Linked DNA regions of Homo sapiens: region 2 is linked to region 1. The links come from fine-mapping of genetic effects on gene expression. A gene starts in region 1. The other region holds a variant in brackets. All regions are shown on one strand. Distances are between the middles of the regions.

Region 1 (15,754 bases):
ATTATATTTAAATGTACCAATATATTTATAGCACTAGAAAAATATGTATCTTTTAATGCATTGAGTTACTAGACAGAAGTATTAAAAAGGCAAAAATTCCTCTTTAAGGAAATAGCTTACATCCTATAAGTGCTCTTACAGGTAATGAAAAAACTGTGTCTGCAATTTGTTCCCTAATATGTCATAAACCAAAAATAGGCTCTTGGGAGAAAGTAATATCTACTCAACATAGCTGGTATTTAAAGAACTTAAATACTGAATTTCAGTACTGTCTCTGTCATAAAACATTGTATTTCCTGGGGCAAGTAACACCTTAACAATGTTTTATAAAAAGCATCAGCAGTTAGCATATGGGTATGAAAACACTTTGCCATTGAATTTCTCATAGATGGTATTAAAAAGTGTCCATTCATGACTATACAACTTTTAAAACCCTAGACAAATAAAAATCCACATGCACTCACTACAAATAAAATCTACACTCTCATCAGACAAAATCTACATTCTCAATACAACCCCAACTGCAACGGCCAATAAATTTACACAAATAAAAATATAATCCAACTTGCTAAACAGGACCCAAACGTATTATCTCGTGAGACACCAGTTATGATAAATTTTGGACATTCTATTTCATTATTCTGTAGTTTTGTTTGTTTGTTTTTGAGATGGAGTCTCGCTCTGTCGCCCACGCTGGAGTGCAGTGGTGCGATCTCGGCTCACTGCAAGCTCCGCCTCCCAGGTTCCAGCGATTCTCCTGCTTCAGCCTCCCGAGTAGCTGGGACTACAGGCGCCCACCATCACACCCAGCTAATTTTTTAAAATATTTTTAGTAGAGACGGGGTTTAACTGTGTTAGCCAGGATGGTCTCTATCTCCTGACCTCGTGATCCGCCCGCCTTGGCCTCCCAAAGTGCTGAGATTACAGGTGTGAGCCACCGTGCCTGGCCTGTTTGTTTGTTTTTAGAGATGGAGTCTTGCTTTGTTGCCCAGGCTAGAGTGTAGTGGCTATTTACAGACACAATCATAGTGCACTGCAGCCTCTAATACCTGACCTCCGGCAATCCTCCTGCCTCAGCCTCCCAAGTAGTTGGGACTACAGGTGAACAACACCTCGCAAAGTTCTGTTTTTTGTTTTTACACTTTGTATTTGCTTTCTTACAATATTCTATTCAAAACTTTGGTCACTAGCCCAACTCCTTTTTGAGGAACACATTTAGAAAACAATGTCAAAAGCTTTATGGATATACAATTAAGGAAACACAGCATTACATAACTATATTTAGGCAAGGGCAGTTTCACCCACTGTTTACTGAGTAAGAGTGAATAAGGATGGTCTCTCTCCATTAACACAATGCATGGCTCCTGCTAGCATTTGATAAATTTGAACTATTATTACTTGAAAGTGCAACTGTTCAGCTGGAGCAAAATACAGGCAATACAACTTACTGGACATTTCATCTGAGACGAGTAGATCTGGATCTGCTCCCATCTTCATATTTGGTATTCCCTCAGCCCATCTCTGTATGGAGGTGAGGTGGCTTTCATTCAAATATGTGCCCCTGTCAGACATACACTGGGTCATGCCACCACCAGGGCTTCAGTGGAGGAAGTCACGGTGAGCCTGAAGGCCTGATATCACCTACCAAGAGCCTCAGGGAACCCAGCCAGCAAAGCAGCAGCGGCCTTGCTCTTATGACATAAAACAGTTTTTGGAGAGTGCCCAGAACCAGGGTGACAGAAAACTCTGTGAGGGTTTCAATAAGGTGCTGAAACAGTGCAGACTTGCAAACAGATTGGTCTAATCAGAAAGTTCGAATTGGAGAAATGGAAAATCAGCTCTCATAACCAAGTGATTTAGCACAAAAATACAATTGATAGTGAAGGTATAAAGTGTAATCATCAGGTAAACCTCTCCTCTCTCATAGCGTCCCTGCTTCAGGACTGCAATGGAAAAGGAAATTCTTACTGTGTAGAATTTCATTAAGATGGCTGGGTAGATGTTTGTGTGGCACCCTTGAACTAGCCGTTATGATTTTATTCTTTGTTGAGTTAATTAGAATAAAGTGATTTTCCTCAAAAAACAAACAAACAAATATGTGCCCTTGTCAGACTGTTCCATCGTGATACCCCCACGATAAACCATGCCTGTTAAAACATATGGTTCCGTGATTCACCAACAACAGAAAACAGATGCATTCAAGGAACTTGTGAGGAAGCACAAACTCAAACCCCACTGCTGATAAATTCATTACAAAAGATCCACTGAGAAAGTATGGAAGGTAGGTGAAGAATGTGCAATCCACCTACTCATCTAGATAATCTAAAACAGATCCTTAAATCAGCCTAGAGATCTAAGTACTCGGATCACATTATTTTGCAGGCAAGAGAAATGCTTTTACGGAATGTTTTGATGTTATGTCACCGTCTTACACAAAAAGCCAATAAGGAGTTTTACTAACACACAAAGTAAAACTCGACACCCAGCCCTTTGAAACGCATGCTGGAAAGTCTTTGGGAATCCAAAGCAGAAATGATCTCTTTTGTCGTATGGTCACTGACCCATGTAACTGATTATATTTCTCTCTTAATTGGCTACTCAAAAGCAAAGCCAAATTTGTGGCCCTCTGCACTTAAGACTTCAGTCCAAGTGCTCTGTGTACACAGCTCATTCCTGTTTCCATCTTAATTTTCCCTCAGTCCTGCATTCCTCACCCACTTATCTGTTATGTTACCAACAGTATGTCGCACGTATCTTTGTAAGTCATTACAAACCCTTTCTGGAACAAGATGTGGAATAATGGAATAAGTAAATGATATGTTCCACTGAAAAAAATTATAGCACAATAAGAAAACATTTTCTTCGATTAATAAACATTTTCTATGTTCAATTTCTAATGGCATTTTCTTTTATGTGCTCCAAAGTACCTTCTAAAGGAAAAATGAAAGTGCTTAAAATTAGAAAATTCTAATTTTAAGAATTTAAATTTCCTCTGTACAACAGAGGAACTACAAAAATAAAACTTTCACTATGTATTTTTAACTGCAAAGCACACAGAAAATTATAAATATACCCCTATGTGAAAATCCCCCAAAAGCGATTTTTAATTTTAGCATACAGACCAAATCACCATAAATTCAATTACAGTTGTGTATTTATTTTGAATGGGAACTGAACAGACTAGCTTCAAATGTGGTTCATAAGGTCTTTGTACAATTCCTCCTGAGTTGTTCTGTGCCTAGCATAGAGGATGCTGCCAAACCATTCCTTAGGGTGAAACAGCAGAGAATTTAGAGCCCTCAAAACTCTTGTTACATTCCTGCTTCAGAGATTTCAGCAATCTGCTCACTGTTACTGGGGGAAAATTAAAAAGCTTAATACTCTCTCAGTGTGTAATATTTTACGCATTCATGAACACATACTTATTCTAACTTCTGACTTTTAACCACATTTAATTAATTGATCATAATAATGGTATTTGGCCCTCTTAATGACCATTGCCAAGAGAGCTATGCTACCAGAAACAAATTAAAATGTTCCACTAGGGCCGGGCACGGTAGCTCACACCTGTAATCCCAGCACTTTGGGAGGCCAAGGCAGGTGGATCACCTGAGGTCAGAAATTCGAGACCAGCCTGGCCAACATGGTGAAACCCCGTCTCTACTAAAAATAAAAAAATTAGCTCAGCATGGTGGCGCGTGCCTGTTAACACCAGCTACTTGGGAAGCTGAGGCAGGAGAATCACTTGAACCCAGGAGGCAGAGGTTGTAGTAAGCCAAGATCGCACTATTGCACTCCAGCCTGGGCAACAAGGCTGAAACTCAGTCTCACTCCAGCAAAAAAAAAAATTAGCCGGACGTGGTGGCAGGAGCCCATATTCCCAGCTACTCAGGTGGCTGAGGCACAAGAATCGCTTGAACCGGGGAGGTGGAAGTTGCAGTGAGTAGAGATCGTGCCACCACACTCCAGCCTGGGTGACAGAGCAAGACTCTGTTCTCAAAAAAAAAAAAAAAAAAAAAAGGTTATATTATAAATAAAAATTGCACTTCCTGCCGGGCACGGTGGCTCACGCCTGTAATCGCAGCACTTTGGGAGGCCGAGGCGGGTGGATCACGAGGTCAGGAGTTCGAGATCAGCCTGGCCAATATGGTGAAACCCCGTCTCTACTAAAAATACAAAAAAAATTAGCTGGGTATGGTGGTTAACTACTCGGGAGGCTGAGGCAGAAGAATCCTTGAACCCAGGAAGCAGAGGTTGCAGTGAGCCAAGATCGCGCCACTGCACTCCAGCCTGGGCAACAGAGCAAGACTCCGTCTCAAAAAGAAAAAAAGAAAAGTAAAAAAAAAAAATCACACTTCCTATCCCACTGACAGTAACTTCATTGAAAACAGGAATTTCACAGGAAACTTCAAAACAGCACCATAAAAGTATAATGTTTTCCTAAAGCATTTTAGGAGCTTTATCCAAACATCAAAGAGATAAACATAAGTTAAATAATATTAAGTGGGATAACTGTTATTTCACATGTTTACATATTGTAACAATAGTCCAGATCATTTAAACTCACTTCAGCCATGTGAAACAACACACATGATGTTTCTACAGTGCTCTATGAAAGAAGTGTACATTTAATAAGATTTTCAAGATGTTTGGCCTGTACTATGAAACTTCTTTTTATAGAGACAGGGTATCACTCTGTCACTCAGGCTGTAGTGCAGTGGCTTGATCACAGCTCACTGCAGCCTGGAACTCCTAGGCTCAAGCGATTCTCCCACTTTGGCCTCCCAAAGCACTGGTATTATAGGCATGAGCCACTGCACCAGCCTGAAACTCTTGGTTTTAGTGTGATCACTTTTTTTTTTTTTTTTTTGAGATAGAGTCTCACTCTGTTGCCCAAGCTGGAGTGCAGTGGCACAATCTCGGCTCATTGCAATTTCCGCCTCCCGGGATCAAGAGATTCTTGTGCCTCAGACTCCCGAGTAGCTGAGATCACAGGCGCACATCACCATGCCTGGCTAAGTTTTTTGCATTTTAGTAGAGACGGAGTTTTGCCATCTTGATCCAGGCTGGTCTCAAACTCCTGGCCTTAAGTGATCTGCCCACCTCAGCCTCCCAAAGTGTTGGGATTACAGGTGTGAGCCACCGCACCCAGCCTATGGTGTGATAACTTTACTGATGGGCTAAGAAGCCACTCACTTGGTACCATTTCTATTCTGAGTCACAGGTGTTAGGTTTACACAGGTATTTCCTACATTTGAGGGATAGGTCATCTCTGCTAGAGATGTTTCCTCTGCAGCCAATAAAAACCCACATGCCAGAAATTAAGCTCACACAGTCAAGACTGAAATTCTATGTCTCTAGCCAAAGACTCACATAAGTAAACAGAATTTTAGTTCTATATGTAGACATCACAATGAGTAAGTACTGATATCATTTTTTTTTTTTTTGAGATGGAGTCTCGCTCTGTCGCTCAGGCTGGAGTGCAGTGGCACAATCTCGGCTCACTGCAAGCTCCGCCTCCCGGGTTCACGCCATTCTCCTGCCTCAGCCTCCTGAGTAACTGAGACTACAGGCGCCTGCAACCATGCCCGGCTAATTTTTTGTATTTTTATTAGAGATGGGGTTTTACCATGTTAGCCAGGATGGTCTGGATCTCGTGACCTCATGATCCACCCGCCTCAGCTTCCCAAAGTGCTGGGATTACAGGCGTGAGCCACCGTGTGCGGCTGATAACATTTTTTTCACTGAAAACCAGCAACAAAAAATCAAAGAAATCAATGAGTTATTCTTATCAAATCAGTTAAGTACTCATTAAACACTTGTGTGCTCAATTGGGGTTGAGAAAGCAAAGAGAGAAATGAATGCAGAATTCCTGTTTACAAATTAGCCAGGTCAGACATCCTTATAGAAAGAAACAACTAGGAAATGAGTATACATTCACGTCAAGCATCTTTTTTTTTTTTTTTTTTTTGAGACGGAGTCTGGCTCTGTCGCCCAGGCTGGAGTGCAGTGGCGCCATCTCGGCTCACTGCAAGTTCCACCTCCCAGGTTCACGCCATTCTCCTGCCTCAGCCTCCCGAGTAGCTGGGACTACAGGCGCCTGCCACCATGCCCAGCTAATTTTTTGTATTTTTAGTAGAGACAGGGTTTCACCGTGTTAGCCAGGATGGTCTTGATCTCCTGACCTCGTGATCCGCCTGCCTCAGCCTCCCAAAGTACTGGGATTACAGGCGTGAGCCACTGCGCCCGGCTATCTTTTTTTTTTTTTTGTAGAGATGCAGTCTTGCTATTTTGCCCAGGCTGGTCTCCAACCCCTGACCTCAAGCAATCCTCCCACTTTGGCCTCCCAAAGTGCGAGGATTACAGGCGTGAGCCACCATTTCAAACATCTAATAAGCAGAAAAAATTAAAATACAAGATAGCAGTAATTAGCTGGGCGTGGTGGCGCGCGCCTATCTATGGTCAGTCCCAGCTACTCAGAAGGCTGAGGCACACAAATCGCTTGAATCCAGGAGGCAGAGGTTGCAGTGGCCAAGATCATGCCACTGCACTCCAGCCCAGTCACAGATCAAGACTCCGTCTTAAAAAAAAAAAAAAGAAAAGAAAAGAAAAGAAAAAAGCAAATAATCAAGCACTACACTGAAAACATTTATCCTTATCAGCTACATAGCAGCCTGTGTGTAAGAGTTACATAAAATTCCATTTTAGGGCCGGGTGCAGTGGCTCATGTTTGTAATCCCAACACTTTGGGAGGCCGAGGCTAGAGAATCACTTGAGGCCAGGGGTTGGAGAGCACCCTGGGAAACATACAAGGATTCCATCTCTACAAAAAAATTTAGCCCAAGTGTGGTGGCTCACACCTGTAATCCCAGCACTTTGGAATGCCGAGGAGGGCGGATCACGAGGTCAGGAGATTGAGACCATCCTGGCTGACACAGTGAAACCACATCTCTACTAAAAATAGAAAAAATTAGCCAGGCATGGTGGCGGGCATCTGTAGTCCCAGCTATTCAGGAGGCTGAGGCAGGAGAATGGCGTGAACCCAGGAGGGGGAGCTTGCAGTGAGCCGAGATCGCGCCACTGCACTCCAGCCTGGGCGACAGAGCCAGATTCCGTATCAAAAAAAGAAAAAAAAATTTAGCCAGGCAAGCTAAATTAGTAGGTGGCAGGCCTGTGGTCCCAGTTACTTGGGAGGCTGAGACAAGAGGATAGCTTAAGCATGGGTGGTGGAGGCTACAGTGAGCTGTGTTCCTGCCACTGCATTCCAGCCTGGGAGACAGGGAGAGAGAGAGAGCCTTTTTTTTTTTTTTAAATTTTTTTCTTTTTTTTGAGACGAGGTCTCGCTCTGTCGCCCAGGCTGGAGTGCATTGGTACAATCTTGGCTCACCACAACCTCCTAGAATTGCTAGGTTCAAGCAATTCTCCTACCTCAGCCTCCTGAGTAGCTAGCATTACGGCAGGCGCCATCACACCAAGCTAATTTTAGTGTTTTTAGTAGAGATGGGGTTTCACCATGTTGCTCAGGCTGGTCTCAAACTCCTGACCTCGTGATCCGCCCGCCTCGGCCTCCCAAAGTGCTGGGATTACAGGCGTGAGCCACCGCGCCTGGCCAGAGAGACCCATTTTAACCACACAAGGACCCAGCTAAAAAACTTCCCCTGGTTCTGTCACCATCAGAGGAAGCCTGAGCTCCTACATCTCTGTCCTGCACTTTTTCACTTTAGTAACGACCCTCCAGGCTCGGTAGCTGATGCCTGTAATTTCAGCACTTGGGACGCTTGAGGCAGGAAGATTGCTTGAGTGCAGGAGTTTGAGATCAGCCAGGGCAACACAGCAAGACAACATCTTTACAAAATATTTAAAAATCAGCTGGGTGTGGTGGCACGCATCTGCAGTCTTAGCTACTCGGGAGGCTGAGGTGGGAGGATCACTTCAGCACAGGCAGTTGAGACTTCAGTGACTCGTGATCGTGTCACTGTACTCCAGCCTGGGTGACAAAGTGAGACCCTCTCTCTCAATAAATAAATTAATAGGCACCTCCTTGTAGTTACTGGCCTCCTCTCCTTTGATTCCCCCCTCTCCCTCACTCCACCCTGTTAGTCTGAATGTTAGTCATTCTTCAAGACACATGCAGAAAGTATTCCCTGATCCCTTCCAGGCTCCACACCCAACAGCATGGCCTAAATGCCCGGCTCCTTCCTCGGTGCTCCATCTTAGCTCACATTCCTTACCACACTGTTTTGAAAGTATCTTGACTGTCCCTTCTCCTCAACTGGCTAACTTCTAGAGAGCAGAAACATGACTGCTTGGAAGGTCATTAAAAATTCAAATCCTGAACATTTCTTAATCCTGCGGATATGAATCAGTGACTCTTAAAAGCAAAATGTTATTTATCATTAAATATTAACAATATAATCACATTTTCTTGCATCTCTGGCAAGTTTCTTGGTACAACAATTTTAAGGAACAGACTCTTAGTTTTTTTTTTGAGATAGAGTCTAGCTCTGTCGCCCAGGCTGGAGTGCAGTGGCACGATTTCGGCTCACTGCAACCTCCGCCTCCCGGGTTCATGCCATTCTCCTGCCTCAGCCTCCAGAGTAGCTGGGACTACAGGTGCCCGCCACGATGCCCGGCAAATTTTCTTTTTCTTTTTTTTTTTTATTTGTAGTAGAGACGGGGTTTCACCGTGTTAGGGAGGATGGTCTCAAGCTCCTGACGTCATGATCCGCCTGCCTTGGCCTTCCAAATGCTGGGATTACAGACGTGAGCCACCGCACCCGGCCGGAACACACTCTTTAACAGCAGTTAAAGCCGCGCAATGGCTCACGCCTATAATCCCAACACTCTGGGAGGCCGAGGCGGGAGGATCACTTAAGGCCAGGAGTTTCACACCTGCCTGGGCAACACTGTGAGATCCCATGTCGAAAAAAATAATAAATAAAAACAAAGCAGTTCTAGGTTTAGAGGGGGGAAAGCAGCTCTCCAGGCCAAAAACCAACTCCCAAGGTGCTCCGGTAAACTCGTCCTGGGAAAATTTCCTACCTAATCTCAAAGGCAAAACGAGCCCACGGGCGCCCACGACACATTTCCCAACCGCAAGGATTGGTCACCCGCGCTGAGACACCGCCAGCTGCCTATGACCTAGCCTCCAAAGCGGCAGAGTCCCTCCCTCTCTCTCCCTAAACTGCCGTGATGGGCATCCCTCGGCTCTCCTCCCAGACGGTTCGGAAGCAGGGACTTCTGCTCCTAACCCCGGCCCCGCAGCCTCGCCCTCAGCCACGGGGTGGAAGTCAGGACCACAGGCTTCAAATCCCCTCCCAACTCCGGGACACTTCTGCCCCCTAGGGTGACGTGGGATCAAGTCCCCGCGCCCCTGCCGCGGCCGGGGGCTGTGGTCTGGGTCCGAGCGTCCCATACCAGCGCTTTCCGGGGAGGTTGTGGGAGGGGCCCCGTGCGACCACAGACGCTGCTTCGGAGCCAGCGGCCTGGACGGAAGGTGGGAGCCGGGGCGAGGGGAGCCGCCGGAGAGGGAGGCGGCCAGGAAATGCTCCGCGTCAGGCCGTCGGGGCTCGGCTGGCGCTGGAGATCCCGGCAACTAGCGTCTGGGACGGAGAGGCCGCACTCTGAGGATTAAGGGAGCCGAGGGCGGCCTGGAACGGGGAAGGCGGCGCTGACGGAGACGGAATGTGGGACGAAGGACAGCGGGAGGCACCGACGCGCAACTGCCCCAGCCGCGCGGATGGCACGGACCGACCGCCCTGCCACCCCCAGCCCGAGACGCCCCGCCGCCCCGCTCCTGTAGCTGAGAGCCGAGCAGCTCTCAGCCCCAGTCCGTCCGCTCCGTACCTCGCCCGCGTCTCCGCCGGCGTCCAAACCACCGCTCGCCCGCTTCGCCCGGGTAGGTCTGGGCTCCGCGGCCAGCTCCCGCCTCACACCCACCCTCCTGCTCGCCCCGCCCCCGGCACCGCCAGCGAACGCACGTTACGCGCGGCGCGTAAACGTCACTTCCGGGGCCTTTGACTCTGGACGGGAGGAAGTGCGAGTGGATCCAAAGGGTCGAGCGGAGTGGGGTACCGCCCTGACGCCCAAGAGCAAATGGAAGAGGGCGGCCTCCGGGGTAAAGGTGGGGCGCTGGGGAGCCCCGGAGAAACCGGCGTTTCCTAGTCTGTCGCTCAGTCCCTGCTTCCGGCTTCCGACGCGCAACAGCTGGAGGGCGACGCTGGCTCCGCGGCGACTCCTGGGGCTGCGGCCGCGGTGGTAGCGCGAATGGGAGGTGGAGCGGAGCTACTGCGCCGAGGGACGCTTCAGAAACTCTGTTTCAGTCCTTCGCGGATCCTAGGATGTGACAGGTGTTCGAGTTAAAAGGTCTTAAGGCGATCGGTTGATCCAAAAGCAGCTGAATCTTTAGGAGGCCCAGGCAGGAGGATCGCTTGAGTCCAGGAGTTCGAGACCAGCCTGGGCCACAGAGCAAGGTCACCATCTCTACAAAAGAAATTTTACAAATCAGCCGGACATGATGGCGGGCACCTGTGGTCCCAACTACCAGGGAGGCTGAGGTGGGAGGATCGCTTGATAGCCCAGGAAGTTGACGGTGCAGAGATCCCTCCACTGAACTCCAGGCCGGGTGACAGCAGAGCGAGATCCTGTCTCAAAAAAAACATAACCGACATCCAGAAGTGAAATAAATTAGCCAGTGTCACAAAGTATTAATGGTTGAGTCACAAATTGAATCCTGTTTACCTGATTCTTTACGTGATTCCCATGTAAGGAATGTTAAAAACAGTAAATACTAATTCCTCTGCGTCCTGAATGCCATGTATGGCGTAACGTGCAGTCACAGCAAGAAAAAAAAGAAAATACTATGCTGTGGCTGTGAGATAGACCTGGGTTAAAATCCCAGCTTTGCTAATTGTCGCTGTAGTGTTCTTGGACAGGTTGCGTAATTTTTCAGTCTATTTTTTTTTTTTTTTTTTTTTTTTTTGAGACTCTCACTCTGTCGCCCACACTGGAGTTCAGTCGTGCGATCTCGGCTTACTGCAACCTCCGCCTCCTAGGTTCAAGCGATTCTCCCACCTCAGCCACCCAAGTAGCTGGAATTACAGGCACCCGCCACCACGCCCAGCTCATATTTTTTTTTTTGTATTTTTAGTCGAGACAGGGTTTCACCATGTTGGCCAGGCTGGTTTTGAATCCTGACCTCAAGTGATCCGCCCACCTTGGCTTCCCAAAGTGCTAGGATTATAGGTGTGAGCTACTGCGCCCGGCCCGAGTTTCTCAGTCTTTATTCATTATTGGTAAAGTAGGGATTAACTGATTCGTTTCTCAGATTCTTCCTAAGTGCCTAATGTGTGCTACGCTGAGGGTACAACAGAGTATAAAACAAAAGTAAGGCCAGGCGCAGTGGCTCACGCCTGTAATCCTAGCACTTTGGGAAGCCGAGGCGGGCAGATCACCTGAGGTCGGGAGTTCAAGACCAGCCTGACCAACATGGAGAAACCCTGTCTCTACTAAAAATACAAAATTAGCCAGGCATGGTGGCACATGCCTGCAATCCCAGCAACTTGGGAGGCTGAGGCAGGAGAATCACTTGAGCCCGGGAAGCGGAGGTTGCAGTGAGCTGAGATTGCGCCATTGCACTCCAGCTTGGGCAACGAGTGAAACTCCTCCTCAAAAAACAAAACAAAACAAAAAAACACAAAGTACCTGTGCTGAGGAGGTGGAGGAGGGAATAAACAATAATTATTTACAGTAGTACCTTGGATGGTGGTAATTGCTATTACCAAAAGACAGAATAACATTTACTTTAAAGCTCTTAACTGACTTTTGTGATTACAGAATCAGGCAACACACCATTCTATAAACCATTCTGTGAAACAGAATGAGTGTTTCTTTTTTTTTTTTTTTTTTGAGTTAGAGTCTCACTCTGTTGCCCAGGCTGGAGCACAGTGGTGCAATCTCGGCGCACTCCAGCCTCCAACTCCCTGGCTCAAGTGATCCTTCTGCCTCCACCTCCCTAGTAGCTGGGATGATAGGTGTGTGCCAGCACACCCAGCTAGTTTTTGGGGTTTTTTTGTAGAGACAAGGTTTTGCCATGTCGCCCTGGCTGGTCTCGAACTCCTGGACTCAAGCAATCTGCCCACCCCGGCCTCCAAAAGTGCTGGGATTACAGGCATGAGCCTAGACCCCTGGGCCCAGAATGAGTGTTCAATGGGCTGAGCAGAAGAGGTTGGTGCTAAAGACAGAAAAGGCCTGAGGAAAGCAGTAACAAAAACTGAATATCATTTCAAAGTTTCTTTGTGAAGGTTAAGCTAGAGAGGACTGGCCGGGCATGGTGGCTCACGCCTGTAATCCCAGCACTTTGGGAGGCCAAGGCAGGCTGATCACCTGAGGTCAGGAGTTTGAGACCAGCCTGGCCAACATGGTGAAACGCCACCTCTACTAAAAATACAAAAATTAGCCAGGTGGTGGCCTGTACCTGTAATCCCAGCTACTCTGGAGGCCGAGGTGATAGGATCACATGAGCCTGGCAGGTTGAGGCTGCAGTGAGCAGTGATCATGCCACTACACTCCAGCCTGGTTGACAGAGCAAGACCCTGTCTCAAAAAAAAAAAAAAACAAAAAAAACAAAAAACACAACCAAGAAGCTTGCAGCTTTAAAATAGACCGGAGCGGCCTCATGAGGTGACCTGAATAAAAGATGAGGGAGCCAGCTGTGCTGCTATGCAAATATCTGGGCAAGAATGTTCTAGGCACCGAGCAGCAAGAGGGAAGACCCTCCTGACACCGCTAACCTGTTTAGCAGTAGCAGGCTGGGGCACGGTGGTAGGATCATGGCTCACTGCAGACTCCAACTCCTAGGCTCAACCAATCCTCCCACCTCAGGCTCACAAGTAGCTGTGACTACAGGCAAGTGCCACCATGCCTGGCTGCTATTTTGCTGTTGTTGAGAATGTGTTTTTCCACGTTTTAGTGTTAAGTGACAGGAACAACAGAGGTTTTTTAAAAAAGACTTTCCTTGGCAAAATTAAAGGAGAACAGCACTATATCAGTCTTTCATCTTTTTTTTAATTGTTTTAAACTACTGAAAGAAGTCTGGTAACCACTGCTACACACCATGCCTCCTTCCCATGGCAAGGCTGAGCCCCGAAATCCGGATCTAAAGGTACTCTCCATATTGTTTTAGACTGCCCCCCCCTACCCAGTCTCGTATTGCGTAGGATAGCCAGGTGTGGTGGCACACGCCTGTAGTCCCAGCTATTCAGGAGGCTGAGGGGAGAAGACTACTTGAGCCAGGAGATTAAGGATGTAGTGAGCCATGATGGCCCTGGTGAAGAACAGCCACTGCATTCCACCCTGGGCAATAGAGCAAGACCCTATCTCCAAAAAAACAGCCCCCAAGAAACAAAAAAACACCTAAAAATTAAATAAATACTGTAATACCAGCATTTTGGGAGGTCAAGGTGGGAGGATTGCCTAAAGCCAGGAGCTTGAGACCAGTCTCGGCAACACAGCAAGATTCTCTCTCTCTCTCTCTCTCTCTCTCTCGCTCTCGCTCTCTCTCTCTCACTCTCTCTCTCTCTCTCTCTCCCCCCTCATATATATATAATGATGATAATATCACCCACATCAAGTAAGAGCAGTGGAAGCCCCAGTGCATCAGCACATATATATATTTGTGTGCGTGTGTGTGTACGTGTGTGTGTCTGTATACGTAGGTGTCTGTGCATGTGTGTATAATTAGATAAATAAAAATAAAACTTTGTTTTGTTTTGTTTTTTGAGATGGAGTCTCGCTCTGTCGCCCTGGCTGGAGTGCAGTGGCGCAAACTTGGCTCACTGCAACTTCTGCCTCCTGGGTTCAAGCTATTCTCCTACCTCAGCTTCCTGAGTAGCTGGGATTACAGGCGCAAGCCACCACACCTGGCTAATTTTTGTATTTTTAGTAGAGATGGGGTTTCACCATGTTGTAGTGAGCTGGTCTCAAACTCGTGGCCTCAAGTGATCCACCTGCCTCACCCTCATCACCTGCCAAGTCCTACCCATTCTAACCCTGATAGCTCTTAAATCAGGTCTTTCCACCTCAACCTCATTATCACTGCTCTAGAGCTCAAGCCTTCAGTGTCCTTTCACTTCCTGAATTTACTGTCTTAGTGCTCTTGCTCACATTGTATTCTTTGCCCAAAATGCTCTTACCACTCCCCTTCTTCTTCTGTCTATAGGGCAAGTTAAATGGCCCCATATAGTGGTATAGGTTGTTCACTGCACTGAGACTATCCATCACCACCTCTACCTCATATGTGAAAGGACTTTTGCTAAAGGAACATTCCTGTCCTTGCTTTCCATCCTTGTTTCTCCTCTCTCAGTATTTTCTGCTGTGCTCCATAGTAATTTTCTGGGGATAGGGTTTATCTGAGAAAGTGTGTGCATGGGTGAAGACCTAGGGGGTCTGGTATTACCTATGACTAGGGGTCTTGAGTCTATCTAAGGCAGGAGTGAATGTCAGGATGCCCACTGAGGCTTTGTTTTTTGTCTTGTTTTTTTCCATCATCATCCCTTTCATTTCCTTTTCCTGTCTTACTGCATTGGCTAGGATCTCCAGTGCAATGCTAAATACAAGTTGTGACAGTGGACAGCAACCACCTCTACTCAATAATAAGGCTGATGTTTTATCAGCCTTATTATCAGCCATCTGATGTCTATATCTAGTTCTCAATTTGTTCTGAATGTGTGAGGGAGATACTACAGGCCTCTGTATTCGTTTGTTCTTGCACTGCTATAAAGAAATGCCTGAGACTGGGTGATTTATAAAGGAAAGAGGTTTAATTGGCTCACGCTTCTGGAGGCTGTACAGGAAGCATGGCTGGAGGGGCCTCTGGAAACTTACAATCATGGCAGAAGGATGAAGGAAAAGCAGGCACGTCTTCACATGGCCATAGCAAAGGGAAGAGAGAGAGAGGGGGAGGTGCTACACATTTTAAACCACCAGATCTCACAATAACTCACTCACCATCACGAGAACAGCACCAAAGGGGAAACCCCCCCCACAATGATCCTGTCACCTCTCACCAGGCCTCACCTCCAACTTTAGGGATTACAATTTGACATGAGATTTGGGCAGGGGCACAGAACCAAACCATTTCAACCTCCCAGAAGTCCATTTTACAGATGAGGAACTGTGAGGTAACTCACCCAAGGTCACACATTTATTAAGAGGCAAAGGTCTTATGTGGATCTCTGCCAGTTTGACTTCAAAGCCCATAATCTAAACTACTATGCTATAAAGTCTTCCATAAAACATAGTCTAAGGGAACAGTCATTTAATAGCGTGATGCTGGAGTGAGATCAGGGATACACACGGTTGGAATAGGCTACAAAGGAGCGATTATGTATAAGAACCAATCCTACCTAAAAATGCAAGCCATGATAACACAAGCACTACACAACAATGGGAAATGGGGCAGGCATTTGAGGGGGGAGGAAATTAGCTAACACTTTATATCTAACACTAAAATGACCTCCAGACAGATTATAAAGTTAAAACTTACATAAATAAGTAATACAATTCTAGACTAGCTAGTAGGAAATAAATTCTTTTTAGCCTCTGGAAAAGCATTCATAAATTTTCCTTAACTTCCTTAACGTTCCTGAAACTTCCTAAGGAGTTTTATAAATGTTCTAGCAAAAGAAGAAATCACACGGAAAAAGACAAACCTGTTTGGCCATGTGGTGAGCAGTTTTGTGGGGTGGCGAGGGGG
Region 2 (15,754 bases), 290 kb after region 1:
CTTCTATCAGCATAAAGCCTCTGAGATTCATCGAAGTTGTTGGGTGTACTAATACCTGTTGTTGTTGTTGTTTTCCTGAGTAGCATTCTGTTGTATGGAGGCACCATAGTTTGTTTATTCATTCACCCATTGAAGGATATTTTAGTTGTCATTTTTTTGTCATCACAAATATTGCTACTATAACTGTTTAAGTACCGAATTTTGAGTAAATAGCAGTTTTTATTTCTTTAGAGGAAATACCCAGGAGAGGGATTGCATGGTTGGATGGTCATTGTATGTATACATTTTTATGAAACCATAAAAGTGTTTTCTCTAGTGTCTGTACTATTTTGCATTCCACTAGGAAGGTATGAGGGTTTTAGTTGCTCTGCATCCCTGCTACCGCTTGGTATTGTCAGTATTTATTTTTTTTCTGAGGTGGGGTCTCACTCTGTCTCCCAGGCTGGAGGGCAGTGGTGTGATCTTGGCTTGCTGCAACTTCCACCTCCCAGGCTCAAGTGATGCTCCCACCTCAGACTACTGAGTAGCCGCGACCACAACCATGCACCACCATTGCTCCCTAATTTTTTTTGTATTTTTTTTGGTAGAAACAGGGTTTTGCCATGTTGCCCAGGCTGTGTCAGTATTTTCTATTTTAGCCATTCTAATAGATTTGAGTGATATTTCATGGTGGTTTTAATTTGCATTTCTCTAATGACTGAACAATGTTGAACAAGTATTCATATGCTTATTTGCCACCATGTCAATAACTGCAAGGGACCTGAATTTTGAGTTCTCCCTACTTAAATGTAGCAAGTTAGTCTCCATGGTTTCATGGATATTGGCCCAAGACATGAAACTCCTGGGTTGGAGGCAAAAGAGGAGGACACAGGTCACAGGACATCAGCAGAACCAGCTTCATGTCCACGTGGACTACCTTTGCCCTGTAAATTCCCTGTGGGCAACGACACAAGTAGGAAATCCAAGCTCAGGGAACTCAGATCTCATAAGGGGTGGCAAACAAATGTCTCAAACCTTTGATATGAAGGGAGACATTATATTTACTGTACTGGACAGTTAACAAATTGTCTTCTGCTGTGGAAGGAGCTATCATCTTTCTCTTGTAAGGATGTTCAATATACAAACATCTTTGACTGGACAGTATGTAGCAAAGGCTTCTCACGGAAATGTGGGACACCAGTATGTATATCTTCTTTAGTAAAGTGTCTGTTGAGATTTTTTGCTCATTTTTAAATTGGGTGGTTTGTTTTCTGACAACTGAGTTTTGAGAGTTCTTTATATATTCTGGGTATGTAAGTTCTTTGCCAAATAGGTGATTTGCAATTATTTTCTCCCATTCTGTAGCTTGTCTTTTCATTTTCTAAACAGTTATTCCCAGAGCAAAAGTGTTTTGTTGTGTTGCCAAGTTTGGTATACAGGTTCTGTGGGCTGTGGCTTTAATGTCAGTATATTGTTTAGAGTTTTGTAGTGCTGTTTCCATCTGTTTCATGTATGTGCTGATCTGAGACCTGCATAGTGGTCTCTCCGTTAGTTCCAATTTGGAAACCTTTGGTACGGAATAGCGTCAGATCCATGCATATGCAGCCTAAGGGTAAGCCTAGAAATTGCTTTCTTGAGTTCTCCTCAGCAATTTTTCCCACACTTTTTGTTCTCAAAGGGCTCATATTTTCTTTCTTTTGTCCAGAAAACTGTGGATTTAGTTACTCCACTCTGCCATGTCTTTCCACCACTGCCTGCACATTTGAGACCAAGGATAGAGATTGGGAAAAATTGATAGTTCTCCTGCCTCAGAGTTTGGCTCCTGCACTCTCATTTCAGCCATAGCTGCAGACAAAGCACACGATTGCTGGGCACTGTGGCTCAAGAGAAGGAGGAGATGGTAAGTGGGGGGATCCCCATATTCTCTCTGGCTGTTAGGATTTCCCTTTCACATGCCTGAAGCCCCAACTAGAAGAGCTTTCTCTGTGCTGTGGGGCCCATTTCCAGGTTGGCTGGTGGTATTGAATGGGAGAAAGTGGTAATCTCTTAGATGGCTGGGTGATACTTTCAATTCTGGTCTTCCCCACATCTCCATTTTGCTTTTCAGAATCCTCAAAAGTAGTGCACACTGTATACTGTCAGGTTTGATAGCTGGTGACTCTCCATCCGCACTTGGTAGCTTCGAGTTTTAAAAATCCATGATGATTTGACTTCCCACCTAACTTCTTTAGTTTACCTTCTGTCTATACTACATCATTCATATTTTACATTTGCCTTCCTGCTTCTGAGCTTTTTGTGAAAGGCATTCTTCCTGTCCAGAATATCCTTCCTCTTTCTGTCATGTTTCCAAGACCCTTTCAACACAAGGCTCTTTAAGGTCTATCACCAGCATCCCCAAGTGGTCTCTCTATACTCACTAGGTCAGAATTTGTATGTGTGTTACTCCCCAACAGTTTCCTAACACTTTCCCTTTTTCCGCGTTTTTCAGTCTGGCTGTACTTTTGGTTATGAGCTTCATGAGGGCAAGGACGTGTTCTATCCGTTGCATCACCAGTGCCATCTAGCTTAATTCTCTGCACACAGTTGGCACTTAGTAAATGTTTGAGTTAAATTAATGAGACCTCCAAGATATAGGGCCTAATTTTATCTGCACATGTGAGTCTCTTGAATGAATGCTGTAGAGTGCTGCTTTTTTACTGTGCTTCTTTGGCAGTTTGTTATTGTGGAGAAGAATGAGGACCATGTGGTTTCAGTTTGAAAGGAAATTGTTACATAGCGATTTACCATACAGCTGTGAGACTATGAACAAATGAGTTTAAATATTACACAGTGGAAAAGAAAACTGACTTTGGAAATTATGATGTTACTTCAATTTTTTTCTCTTCTCTTCTTTCTGGACAAGGCCTTGCTCTGTCACCCAGGCTGGGGTGCAGTGATGTGATCATAGCTCACTGCAGCCTCCATCTCCTGGAGAGGCGATCCTCCTGTCAGCCTCCCGAGTAGCTGGGACTACAGGCATACACCATCACACCCCACTAGTTTTTGTATTTTTTTGTAAAGATGGGGTCTTGCTGTGTTGCCCAGGCTGGTCCTGAACTCCTAGCCTCAAGTGATCCTCCCACCTTGGCCTCCCAAAGTGGCATGAGCCACTATGCCCATCGTGGGTTTGTTTTCTTTTACAGTAGCCATCCTAATGGGTATGAAGTGATATCTCATTGTGGTTTTGATTTGCATTTCCGTGATGATTAGTGATGTTGAGCATTTTTTCACATGTTTGTTGGCTGTTGGTATATCTTTGGAGAATTGTCTATTGAAGTCCTTTTCCCATTTGTTAACCAGATTATTATTATTATTTTTTTTGTTATTGGCTTGTAGGAGTTCCTTTATATTCTGGATATTAACCCCTTATTATATATGTGGTTTGCAGATATGTTCTCTCATTCTGTGTGTTGTTCCTTTTTACTCTGTCAGTTGGTTCCTGTGTTGTGCAGACATTTTAAATTTTGATGTAATTAATATATTTGTCTGATTTTGCTTTTGTTGCCTGTGCTTTTGGTGTCATATCCTAGAAGTCATTGCAAAATCCAGTGTTGGGAAGCTTTTCCCCTAAGTTTTCTAGTTTCCAGCCTTTACATTTAGGTATTTAATCCAATGTTAGCCCTTTCTTAATGGGTTCTGTGTATTTTCGGCAGGGAATAAGTCTTTAATATGACTGTTTCAGGAATTTACCATAGTTAACTTTTCCTTTTTCCTTCTTCCTTCCTCCTCTCTTTCCCTCCCTCATTCCCTCCCTCCTTCATTCCCTTCTTCCCTCTCTTACAGCCTGAAGATAATGGAAGCACTCACTTTTTCTTCATAATTGCTAAGACTTTAGTTAGTAGAATGATAATTCCTTTTCAACAGCACTTTGTCATTTGTTCATTGGTTAGCAGTAAGAAGATGAGCCTTAAGTCTGAACGCTGAGGAATTCATGTGCATCAGTCGGACCTCCTGTGCAAGAAAGGATGTGGTTACTACGGCAACCCTGACTGGCAGGGTTTCTGCTCCAAGTGCTGGAGGGAAGAGTACCACAAAGCTAGGCAGAAGGAGATTCAGGAGGACTGGGAGCTGGCGGAGTGGTAAAAGGACTTAACTAGGGGCGGTTGAACAGTGGCGTGACTGGATACATACTTCTGTCACCATCCAAATACATTTTTTTAAATTTCTGCTTTGACCTATCAGCAAGTCAGTTTAAAATTAAGGAAAAGGATGTTTTCCCCTCTTCTTCTCAGTCAACCTTTAATGAACAGCTTTGAGTATTTTCTTCATTTTTTGTATGTCTTAACTTCTGATTATATTCTTTGGGTTATGTTAATCTTGGTTCTCAAATGTAGACAATAAGCTCCTTGGAATGGAAGAATGGAGATAGGCATATTTCCTGGTGAAGATTAAATGAGCTAATAAATATGATGTACCCAGTGCAGGGCTTGCAAATGGCACTCATCAAGCATTATTTCCCTCATTCTTTTAATATATTCAGCGTGGCATCTAGCTCAGTGATAAAACACAGTAGTAGAAATCTGTTGACTTGTATACATAGTCCTTGCATTATAGAAATTTAACTTTTCCTTAAAAATTAGGTTACTCAAAGGCAGTTTGTATTATCTGGAAATATAATGATGTTAAAAATTAAATAATGGGCCAGGCGCAGTGGCTCATGCCTGTAATCCTAGCACTTTGGGAGGCTGAGGTGGGAGGATCACCTGAGGTCAGGAGTTTGAGACCAGCCTGACCAATATGGTGAAACCCCATCTCTACTAAAAATATTTAAAAAGTTAGCCAGGCGTGGTGGTGTGCACTTGTTATCTCAGCTACTTGGGAGGCTGAGGCAGGAGAATTGCTTGCACCCAGGTATCGGAGGTTGCAGTGAGCTGAGACTGTGCCACTGCACTCCAGCCTGGGCGACAGGGTGAGACTCTGTCTCAAAAAAAAAAAAATTAAATGATGGGATGGCTACTGAGCATAGGAACTAATAAAATGCCATGAATAATGTTAATTCTTTGCCAGAGCATTTTAGAAATTCTAAAACTGCTTCAACAGAAGAAAGGCAAATGGAATTCTGCCAACTCTTCTTGCTAGTTTTTTTGTTTTTTCATCCAGTCAGCCAATATTTGTTGAGTGACTACTTTGCTGGCACCTGTGGTGAGCTCAGAGAATTAGAAATTACACATTGCTTTCAGTGACTGTGGTCATCAAAGAGAAAATTTTAGCCAAGAACATGAATGATCTCCTCAGGGTTTCCACTGCATGCCTGATGTTGTCAGTAGCAGATCCTGTTTCAAAAACAGAGTAGAGGCCACTAGGCACGAACTGCCTCAGCTTACTCCCTTCGCCACATAAAAATGTACTAATACCTTTATATTAACTTCTTGTCCGTCCCAGAGAAAGAAGTGTCCCGATTCCATACTCAGACTTAGCACCTCCCCTGTGATTTTTGTTTCTATTTCTTACTGCTTTTAATTGTGACCCTGCTAAATCTCTTGGAAAGCTTGTGAAAGCAGTGATTGCTGGACCTTACCCACAGAGTCTCTGATTTTAGTAGTTTGGGAGTAAGACTAGAGAATTTGCATTTCTAACAAGTTGCCTGGTGATGGTGCTGCTGCTGTCTGGGGAACCACGCTTGGAGAACCACTGTCTTATAGATAGTGCTTGAGTTTTTTGTTTTGTTTTGAGACAGGGTCTTGCTCTGTCACCCCGGCTGGAGTACAGTGGTGCAATCTCAACTCACTGCATCCTCTGCTTCCTAGGCTCAAGTGATCCTCCTGCTTCAGCCTCCCAAGTAGCTAGGACTACAGGAGCATGCCACCACGCCCAGCTAATTTTTGTATTTTATGAAGAGACAGGGTTTCACCATGTTTCCCAGGCTGGTCTCAAACTCCTGAGCTCAAGTGATTCGGCTGCCTTGGCCTCCCAGTGTGCTGGGATTACAGGCGTGAGCCACCGCACCCGGCCTGTTTTTGGGATTTATTACAGATGGTTCACATGCAGCTAATCCAAACCCAAATTTATTGCTTTTATTTATTATTCTCCGCATTCTGAACATTTTCCTCCTAACCCTTCTCCTGAGTCAATTAATGGCATCATTGTTTACCAAGTTAGCTAAAAAACCTTGGTTTCATTCTTGATTTCTCTTTAACCTCCCTTGGCACCTACAATTTGACCAAGTTCCATTTGTTCCAACTTAGAAAAGTCTTTTGCATTTTATCTTTGCTCCTCTTCTTTTCCAGGTATTTATTTTCTTTTACTTGAACCTTTATAATATACGCTTAATTCCTGTCCGTGTCTCTAGTTTCTCTATCCTTCAAGTTGTTCACATAGCTACCTGCATGATCTTTCTAAAGCACAGATCTGACAACAATAACTTTTTGGACTTGCAGTTTTTCTTGCTTCCCCACCACATGATGAAATCCAGAATAGGCTTAGCAATGGGCTTAGCAGGCAAGATTCCCTACCCTCTGGTGCCTTCCTGTGTATCCAGCATCACAGTTCATCACACGCCCAGTGCTCTGGCTACATTCAGTTTATTGTGAAGCAAACCACAGGCTTGCACATTTGTAGTTCCTTCTTCCTGGAATGTCCTTTCACTTAGAATCCTAATCATCCTTATCAGTCAGGCGTGGTGGTGTGTGCCTGTAGTCTCAATAACTTGGGAGGCTGAGGGATGAGAATTGCTTGAACTTGGGAGGCAGAGGTTGTAGTGAGCTGAGATCGTGCCATTACACTCCAGGCTGGGTGATGGAGTGACACTCTGTCTCAAAAAACAAACAAACAAAAAAAAACAGAAACAAAAAAGGATCCTATTTGTCCTTTAAGACTCACCCCAAACATCACCGTTGTAAAGCCTCATCAGACTCCTCCAGCAGATTGTGTTGTTCTTTCCTGTGTTCTCATAGCACTCAATTTTTACTCTCTGATGTAGCAGCTGTCCCATTATATAGCAGTTGTTTACTTACCTTTTTGTTTGTTCCAAGCTTGAGCTTGTTAGGGAAAAGGACTAGACTTTATTTATTTCACTGAGCTTGTTGGGGAAAAGGACTAGACTTGATTTCTTTCATGTAACCCTAGACCAGTTGCTGAATGAGCATGAGAAGATGCCATTTGAAATCTGTAGTGCATGAAGAGCCGTCCATCCTGTAGCTATGTGAGACCTCAGACTGATTTGGCGTATTTAGTCTCTAGTTCTAAAATCTTTAGATCCTCCTGAATTAATGGAGTAATAACCTTCAGATACAGAGAAATCTTGGAGAATATCTAGATCATTCTAATCCTCTCTTGAATTGCAGACTCCAGCGGGAGGAAGAAGAGGCCTTTGCCAGCAGTCAGAGCAGCCAAGGGGCCCAATCCCTCACATTCTCCAAGTTTGAAGGAAAGAAAACCAACGAGAAGACCCGCAAGATTACCACAGTGAAGAAATCTTCAGTACGTCTTCCAGGGTCGGATCAAAGAAGGGTAATGTTGTGATACTCTTTTTTTTCTTCTCTGCCTGAGTGAGACACAGAGGAGATCCCCAATGCTCATAGGCTCAGCTTTGTAATTTCTGTCAACTTTTTGAGATCATCAGCTCAGATTTGACACTGAAATTGGGCTTGAGGGTCAGACAATATATGAAACCAATACTCT[CTT/T]TAGTTGAAAGACATTGTGTTTTAGAGAAATTTGTTTACTCTGTAGGAGGAATAAAGAGAATTGAAATAGATAGTTTTGTTTATGAAATTCATCCCCATCCAAATGACTATCTCTTTGGATGTTTTGGTTTTTGTGCCTTTATTTGTGGATCCTGGTTTGTTCTGTGGTAATACCCTCACTGTTCATAGCTTGTCAGAAATGGTGATTTCTAGGCTTGAAAGTCATCTGAGAGAGAGATTTTCTGCCCGAGAGCTTATTTGAGAGACAGCTTGTGTCTTGAGAACATATAGGAAAAGGCCCACATTGGGCTCCTGGAGGGATGAAAGTGAGCCATAGTAGCTATTTTCCAGTGCATGGATTTGTATGTAGGTGATCATATTCACCTGGCTTCTTAAAATGCCATATGACCAGCAAGAAGATTGTCACTTAAGTCACAGTTGTTCTATAATTGAGCAGACAAGCCAGTTGAATGGCCCAACGTGAAGCAAGAAAGAATCTCTGTGGTTAGGCCTCGGTCTCTGAAAATTTATGTTGGTACTCAGTTATACAGTTAATGTGAAATGATGAGGGAGACTGGGAACCAACACTGATGCTGTCAGAAGACCTGTTCTCTGGGAGCCCCATCACTTGCTCCCCAGTTCCTACCCTGGGGTAATTGTAATGAGGTCTCCCCTGGAGGCAGGGGAATGAATAATAAGACACTGTTACCCTTAAGACCCTTGCCAGTCTTCTAGGTTTTGTGACTTTTGCTGTTTCCTTTTGTTTTATTATAAGGAAATAAAAGGAAATATTGCTTACCAAAAACACAGTTCTCTTTAAGACATTGATACCAGGTGCAGTGGCTCATGCCTGGTAATCTCAGCACTTTGGGAGGACACGATGGATGGATCACCTGAGCTCGGGAGTTTGAGACCAGCCTGGGCAACATGGTGAAATCCCATGTCTACAAAAAATACAAAAATTCCCTGGGCACAGTGGCATGATTACATGATTAATTTGAAGTTGTTTCTTGGTTGGCTGCCAGTTTTAGCTATTTTGTCTCTACTAAAAAGGGGAAAAAAATTAGCACCTGCCAGAGATTAAATAAGAATGTATTCAGCTTATGATTTATTTATTAGGAGGTGAAATTTTCAGGTGGTTAGTAAGGTGACTTTGGAGTCACTCTTGATTTGAGTCCTAGCTTTGTCATTTACCAGCTTTGTGACCCTGGGCGGACTAACCAAGTCTTGTCCACACTGAGGGACAGTAATACCTATCAGAGACATTTGATGAGGATTCAGTTAGTTGACATATGTAAAGAGCTTAGCACAGTGCCCGACACACACAGTAGATCTCCAGTAAGTGTTAGCTTTTTTAAAATGCAAGTTATTCTTCTGATAGAATAATCTTGCAGGGAGCTCAAGGCCATTTATTATTAAGTTCCTTCATTCCTATTTAGCTTAAAGTCTGTTTCTTGATGATATGTAGTGAAATGGTAAGTATGATAACAGATGAAATAGTAAAAAAAATCATCGAATTATCAGCTCTAATAGCCTCATTTTGCAGATGACAATATGAAAGTCCATAAAGGTTAACTAATTTACCCAAGGTTGAACGATGAGTTTGTGCATGAGAACTCAGGTTTCCTAACTCCTGGGTCAATATTTTTCCATTATATTCCTTTATTCAATGTGTATACTTCAGAAACCCAGGTTATTTAATGTATATAATAAATAGTAAATATATATATATAATCAAGTTTCTGTTACTTAAGTACATAATTGTCATTTATATTCGCTGACTCTCCTTGGTGGTTTTAAAAACCTGTGTCCCAAAAGCCTCTGTACAGTGTGCATGATACTATGGAAAGAAGATTTACAATTTAGTGCAGAGTCTGTACTTTAAAAAGAAACCATTCTCGAGTTGGGTGCAGTGGCTTGTACCTACCTATAATCCCAGCTACTTGGAAGACTAAGGTAGGAGGATTACATGAGCCCAGGAGTTAGTGGCTGCAGTGAGCTGTGATTGTGCCACTGTATTCCAGCCTAGGCAGCAGAGTGAGACACCATCTTTGAAAAAATTAATTAGTTAAAAAAAGAAACAATCCAAGTGACTTTTATTTTAAAAATGTGTATGCAGAATGGTTTTTACCTTTGTTCTTGTTTCTCCCCACCCCGCATCTTTTTGAATGGTAGATTTGTACTTTCTATTTTTTGTTCTTTAGTTGCTTTTTGTCAGTAGAAAGCTTTGGGGATAAAGATCTTAAAGTATTTGAAAATTTATGTTAGAAGAGAAGATTCCATTATGTCTTTGTTTCACAGATCACTTAATATAAGTTAGCCAGGTAAATTTTGCATTTCACACTGATTACTTGTTTGGCCATCGTGTTTGGATAAGGTTAGCCTAAGTGCAGTTTTAATGTATTGGGTCTAGACTAGAAACAGACTTTTTGGATTTTGTATTCTTGATCTTCTTTAGTCCGTGATGCCCTTGCTCTTGGTATTTTGCTTGTTTCTGTTAGTAACATAAAGGAAAGCTTTTCGCCATACACAGCAGCTTGGTAGCAGACAAAATACAAATAACCTTCTAAGGAATTTGAAGAATATTTTCACATTTTTTTAGAGTTGGATTCACTTTCAGAGAAAGTAAATGGAATGTCTTGACTGTAAAGACTCAGTTAAAGTGTTTTAGTCTCCACAGTCATGGTGAGTGAGCTGTATAGAGGAAGTCATAGTGGTTGGCCAAGCTGAGATCACTTGCTTATACATTCCAAAGTGCCCTTTTCTTTCAGAACTCCTATAATCTTGTCATCCCAAGTAGAATCTTGTGTACCTCTTTCACAAACAGATCTAAAGACAGTGATCCTCCAAAGCGTATCTTTTCTTTTTTAGAGTTAAAATACCAATACCACCCAGACCTTAGATTCTAAATAGTATTATTCATTAAAGTGAGCCAGGGCTTCTTAGAGAAATGACTGATTCTGGGGCTGGGGCAGGGAAAAAAAGGCCCCTTCAATATTTTGGTTACATTTCAGAAGATCTAGAAGCCAGCTTGGAGGGGTTTCCACTGGCCAAGTCTGGGATAATTTGAGTGTCAAAATAAACAAGGACAATAAGGCCGGGCACGGTGGCTCACACCTGTCATCCCAGCACTTTGGGAGGCCAAGTTAGGCAGATCACCTAAGGTCGGGAGTTCGAGACCAGCCTGGCCAACATGGTGCAACCGCATCTCTGTCTTTTTTTTTTTTTTTTTGGCACAACCCCATCTCTACTAAAAATACCAAATTAGTCAGGTGTGGAGGTGTGTGCCTGTAATCCCAGCTACTTGGGAGGCAGAGTCAGGAGAATGGCTTGAACCCAGGAGGTGGAGATTGCAGTGAGCTGAGATCGTGCCACTGCACTCCAGCCTGGGCAACAAGCGAGACTCCGTCTTAAAAAAAAAATAAAGTGAAGAAATCAATAAATAAGGACAATAAATGAAGTATAACTGAACAAAATAATAATCCGTGTGTTAATTTAACTAGTAAAATAGAGAAATACAGCTGGCACGGGGGCTCACGCCTGTAATCCCAGTACTTTGGGAGGCCGAGGTGGGTGGATCACCTTTGCTTGGGAGTTCGAGACCAGCCTGACCAACGTGGAGAAACCCGTCTTTACTAAAAAAATACAAAATTAGCCAGGCGTGGTGGCAGATGCCTGCAATCCCAGCTACTGGGAGTCTGAGGCAGGAGACTCGTTTCAATCCGGGAGGCGGAGGTTGTGCTGAGCCGAGATCATGCCATTGCACTCCAGCCGGGGCAACGAGCAAGACTCCATCTCAAAAATAAAAAAAAAATAAAAAAAAATAGAGAAATACACAAATGAGAGGTTATAGTCATGTTAGTAGCAAAAATTGATTCAGGTAAAGTTTATCTGGGTGCTAAATCTTGGATGAGGGGAGGGAGTTTCCCAGGAAACAAGTTACGAACATGATCTCAAATTCACTGCCAATGAATTATTTATGTGTTTATTTTTCTTTTTTTCCTTTTTTTGTGGAGACGGGAGGTGGGTCTCGCTGTGTTGCCCAGGCTGGTCTTGAACTCCTGGCCTCAAGTGATCCCACCACTGTAGCCTCAAAGTGCTGGGATTACAGGTGTGAACCACCATGCCCAGCCAGATTATTTATTAATTATAAATAGAGAAATGGTAACTATAAAATGGGGATGTAGGAGGCAAGGATAGATGTCATGTGTGCTTCCAGACATGACACTTTGAGAACACAACATCATTTATGAAATATCTAAGCCGAAAATTTTTAACAACCTGAATCCAGTCATGAGGACACCCAATCTAAATGGCATTCAACAAGATACCTGGCCTGTGTTCTTCAGAAGTGTCATGCTGAGAGAAACAAAGGTTGGGAAAATTGTGAACTGCTCATTGTGAACAATTGAGAAACTTGGAATATGGATTTTCAATTGAGTAAAAGTATTTTATCAATGTAAATTTTCCTGAATTTGGTAGCTATCCTGTAAGGTACATAAAACAATGGCTTAATCCCTTTGCATTGCTATAGAAGAATACCTGAGGCTGGGTTACTTATAAAGGAAAGAGGTTCATTTGGCTCACAGTTCTGCAGGCTGTGGAAGAAGCATGGAGACAGGCCAGGTTCAGAGGCTCACGCCCGTAATCCCAACACTTTGGGAGGCCGAGACAGGCAGATCACTTGAGTCCAGGAGTTGGAGACCAGCCTGGCCAACATGGCAAAACCCTGTCTCTATTGAAAATACAAAAATTGGCCAGGCATGGTGGCCCATGCCTGTAATCCCTACTACTTAGGAGGCTGAGGCAGGAGTATCACTTGAACCTGGAAGGCAGAGGTTGCAGTGAGCCGAGAATGCGCCGGTGTACTCCCGCCTGGGCTGCAGAGTGTGAGACTCCTCAAAAAAAAAAAAAAAAAAGAGAGAGATTGGGCAATGGAAGGCTTGATAATCATGGTCTACTTGCTATTCCTGAAATACAAGCTTTGTTTCTGTATTAAAAACATAAGGTGCAGCTTGGTCCAGTGGCTCATGCTTGTAATTCCAGCATTTTGGAGACTGAGGCAGGAGGATCGCTTGATCCCAAGAGTTCAAGACCAGCCTGGGTAACATAGTGAGATTCCATCTCTTAAAAATAATAATAATTAGCCGGGCTAGTGCCTGTAGCCCCATCTACTCTGGAGGCTGAGGTCGGAGGATCATTTGAGCCTGGGAGGTTGAGGCTGCAGTGAGCTGTGATCGTGCCACTGTATTCCAGCCTGGGTGACAGAGCGAGACCCTGATTAAAAAAACAAACAAACAAACAAACAAAAACGCAAGGTGACTTTAAGTTGAAGAGCAAGCACTTGCCATTTGAGCCCTAGCCAAAACTATGAACTGTAATGTGGGTGAGGTTGTTCTTTTCCATATTTCCTTCTTCTTCACTTCTTTCACCTTACACACTGAATCCCTATTGGCTGTTCAAACATAACTAACCTCCTCCCTGTGTACCAAACACCTGAACTGTCTCTCACTTTCCCCTCTCTAATCCAAACTTGTGGCCTCTTAATAGGGGTTGATTTTTAGGAAGCTTAGAGAAAAACAACAAAGTGTTGATTTTAGTAACTTGTATGGTCATAACTAGCTAATAGAATTAATCTTCATTTACATTTTAAAAGGAGATTTTTTTTCTTTTTTAAGCAAAAGTGTCCTTTGGAAAAGTATGTGTGGGAGGGAAGCATGTTGTAAGCAAAGCAATAAAGGAAATGAGTAGGGTTTTCCTGTCTTTGACTGGTGTACAGACCTCCAAAGTCAGAGGGATTGGTGTTATTCTAAAGAGTCTTCAGTCCTCTCTGGCTTACTGAGGTGTAGTTATAGCATAGTCAACAGCTCAGGGTTTGGATTTAAGTGCACAGACCTGGGTTCAAATTCCAGTCTTTATAAGTGACTGCAACATTATTCAAGTTACTTAACATATTCAAGCCTCAGCTTCCTCATTTGTAAATATCATAAGTGTACTACCTGATAGACTTGTGAAGATTATACAAAATAGCATTGTAAAAGTACCTAGTGCATAATAGACATTACCTATATGTAAGTTTATACTACCATTATTATTTTGTCAGATGGAATATGTATTATGTTTTTATTGGGTTGAGTGTTCTGTCAATGTCAGGTAGGTCAAGTTGGTTAATAACATCATTCAAGTTTTCTGTCTTTACTGACTTTTTAAAAATATCTCTCTGTCAATTACTAAGCGAGGATTATTGAAATCTCCAAATATCATTGTGAATTTGTTTCTCCTTTCAGTTCTATCAAATTTTGTTTTATGTGTTTTGAAACAGTGTTATTAGTATATACAAATTTAGGATTGCTGTGTTTTCTTGAAGAATTAACCCCTTTTTTATGATGAGATACCTCTCTGTGTTCTTGATAATATGGTCCATGTTCTTAAGTTTACTTTGTCTAACATTGGTATAACCACTTAAGCTCTATTTCATTGTTTCAGAGTATCCTCTTCCTTTCATTAGTTTTTAACATATTTGTATCTTTATATTTAAAGTAAATTTCTTACAGACAACATGAAGTGAGGTCTTGTTTTTTAATCTAATACGATAATCTCTGACATTTAATCAGACTGTTTATAGCATTTGTAATTAATGTGATTTTTGATAAGGGAAGTTTTACCCCTGTCATCTTGCTCTTTGTGTTTATCTCATCTTGTCTTAGTTCCTTTTCTCCTCTTTTCTTGCCTTCTTTATGACCACACCTTTACCTCCACTATCAGCTTGTTAGCTACACCTCTTTGTTCTGTTTTGTTTTGTTTGGTTTTTATTACCGGTTGTTCTGGGCTTTACAGAATACATCTTTAACTTACTTACCTTCAAGTAATATTTATACCACTTTACAGAAAAAAATTTTTTTAATAATAGTATTATACGACTTTACATATAAGAATCTTAAACAGGATTCTTATATTTCTTCCTCCCGTCCTTCGTGCTGTGGTTCTACATGCTACTTGGTGGTTCTTTCTCTCATCTTGGGTAGTTTCCTCATATGCATGTGTAGTACTCAGCCACACTCAAGGGAACCCTCTGCAGATACCTGGAGCTTTTTCTGTTAGCCCTCTCCCCTCCATAGCGTTTGCATGATATTTTGCCATGCAAATTCTGGTCACATTGGCCTCCCTGAACTCCAAATGCTATCTCCTCAATTCAGCAATTCAGCTAAGCTGTGTTTGAGTGGCCTCTCCCTGTGCCAAGACTTTAAAACTCTCCCAGCAGTGAGCTGGGACACTGTAGGACAGACTGTGTTTGTTTCCTGTCTTTCAGGAGTTAATCTGCTGTTTACCTGTCGTCCAATGTCTGAAAACCTTTCTTTCATATATTTGACGTTGCAGTTGTTAAGATAGTAGGGTAAACCTGATGCCATCAGATTATTCCGTCATGACTGGAAGTGGAATTATCTGACAGAGAAGGATTTTTGATAAAGATTTTTTTCCTAATCATACAGATGTCAGCACAATCTTTGGTTTTTTATTTACATAAAAAATATTTTAGAAAAGATGTTGCTCTTTTTGTTTTGAATTAGATTGTACCTGATTTATTTATGTGCTTAAAAAAATAGGTAGTATATCCAAATGACTCAAACGTAACAGATACGGTTAGAAGTTTCCTTTCTACTTTGTCTCTCGCCCATCTAGTTCCTAAGTACCACTGCTATTGTTCCCCTACTTTCTTTTTTTTTGAGATGGAGTCTGTCTCTGTCACCCAGGCTGGAGTGCAGTGGCGCGATCTCGGCTCACTGCAAGCTCCGCCTCCCGGGTTCATGCCATTCTCCTGCCTCAGCCTCCCGAGTAGCTGGGACCACAGGCGCCTGCCACCACACCCAGCTAATTTTTTGTATGTTTAGTAGAGACGGGGTTTCACCGTGTTAGCCAGGATGGTCTTGATCTCCTGACCTCGTGATCCGCCCACCTCGGCCTCCCAGAGTGCTGGAATTACAGGCGTGCGCCACCGCGTCCCGCCTATTGTTCCCCTACTTTCCCAGAACTTTTGTTATTAGTTTCTTGTGTATCCTCTTTCTGTGCTTTTATTCTAATTTATAAAAACGTATATTCTTACCCCACTACCCCGT

The links.
Region 2: its variant is fine-mapped to the expression of RABGEF1 in whole blood (TOPMed, PIP above 0.99). The same link has a PIP of 0.9 or more in T cells.

The regions. Positions count from the first base shown.
Region 1 is chr7:66,734,885-66,750,638 of GRCh38, reverse strand. RABGEF1 (RAB guanine nucleotide exchange factor 1) reads right to left here and starts at 9,906. Exons shown (of 9, transcript NM_014504.3): 1 at 9,847-9,906. RefSeq lists silencers at 9,683-9,822, 9,843-10,112 and enhancers at 9,563-10,229, 10,243-10,292.
Region 2 is chr7:66,441,784-66,457,537 of GRCh38, reverse strand. It overlaps the pseudogene RABGEF1P2. Among named protein-coding and RNA genes, the nearest start is that of LINC03011, 44 kb to the left of the region's middle. The variant CTT/T (reference allele first, on the strand shown) is at 7,639.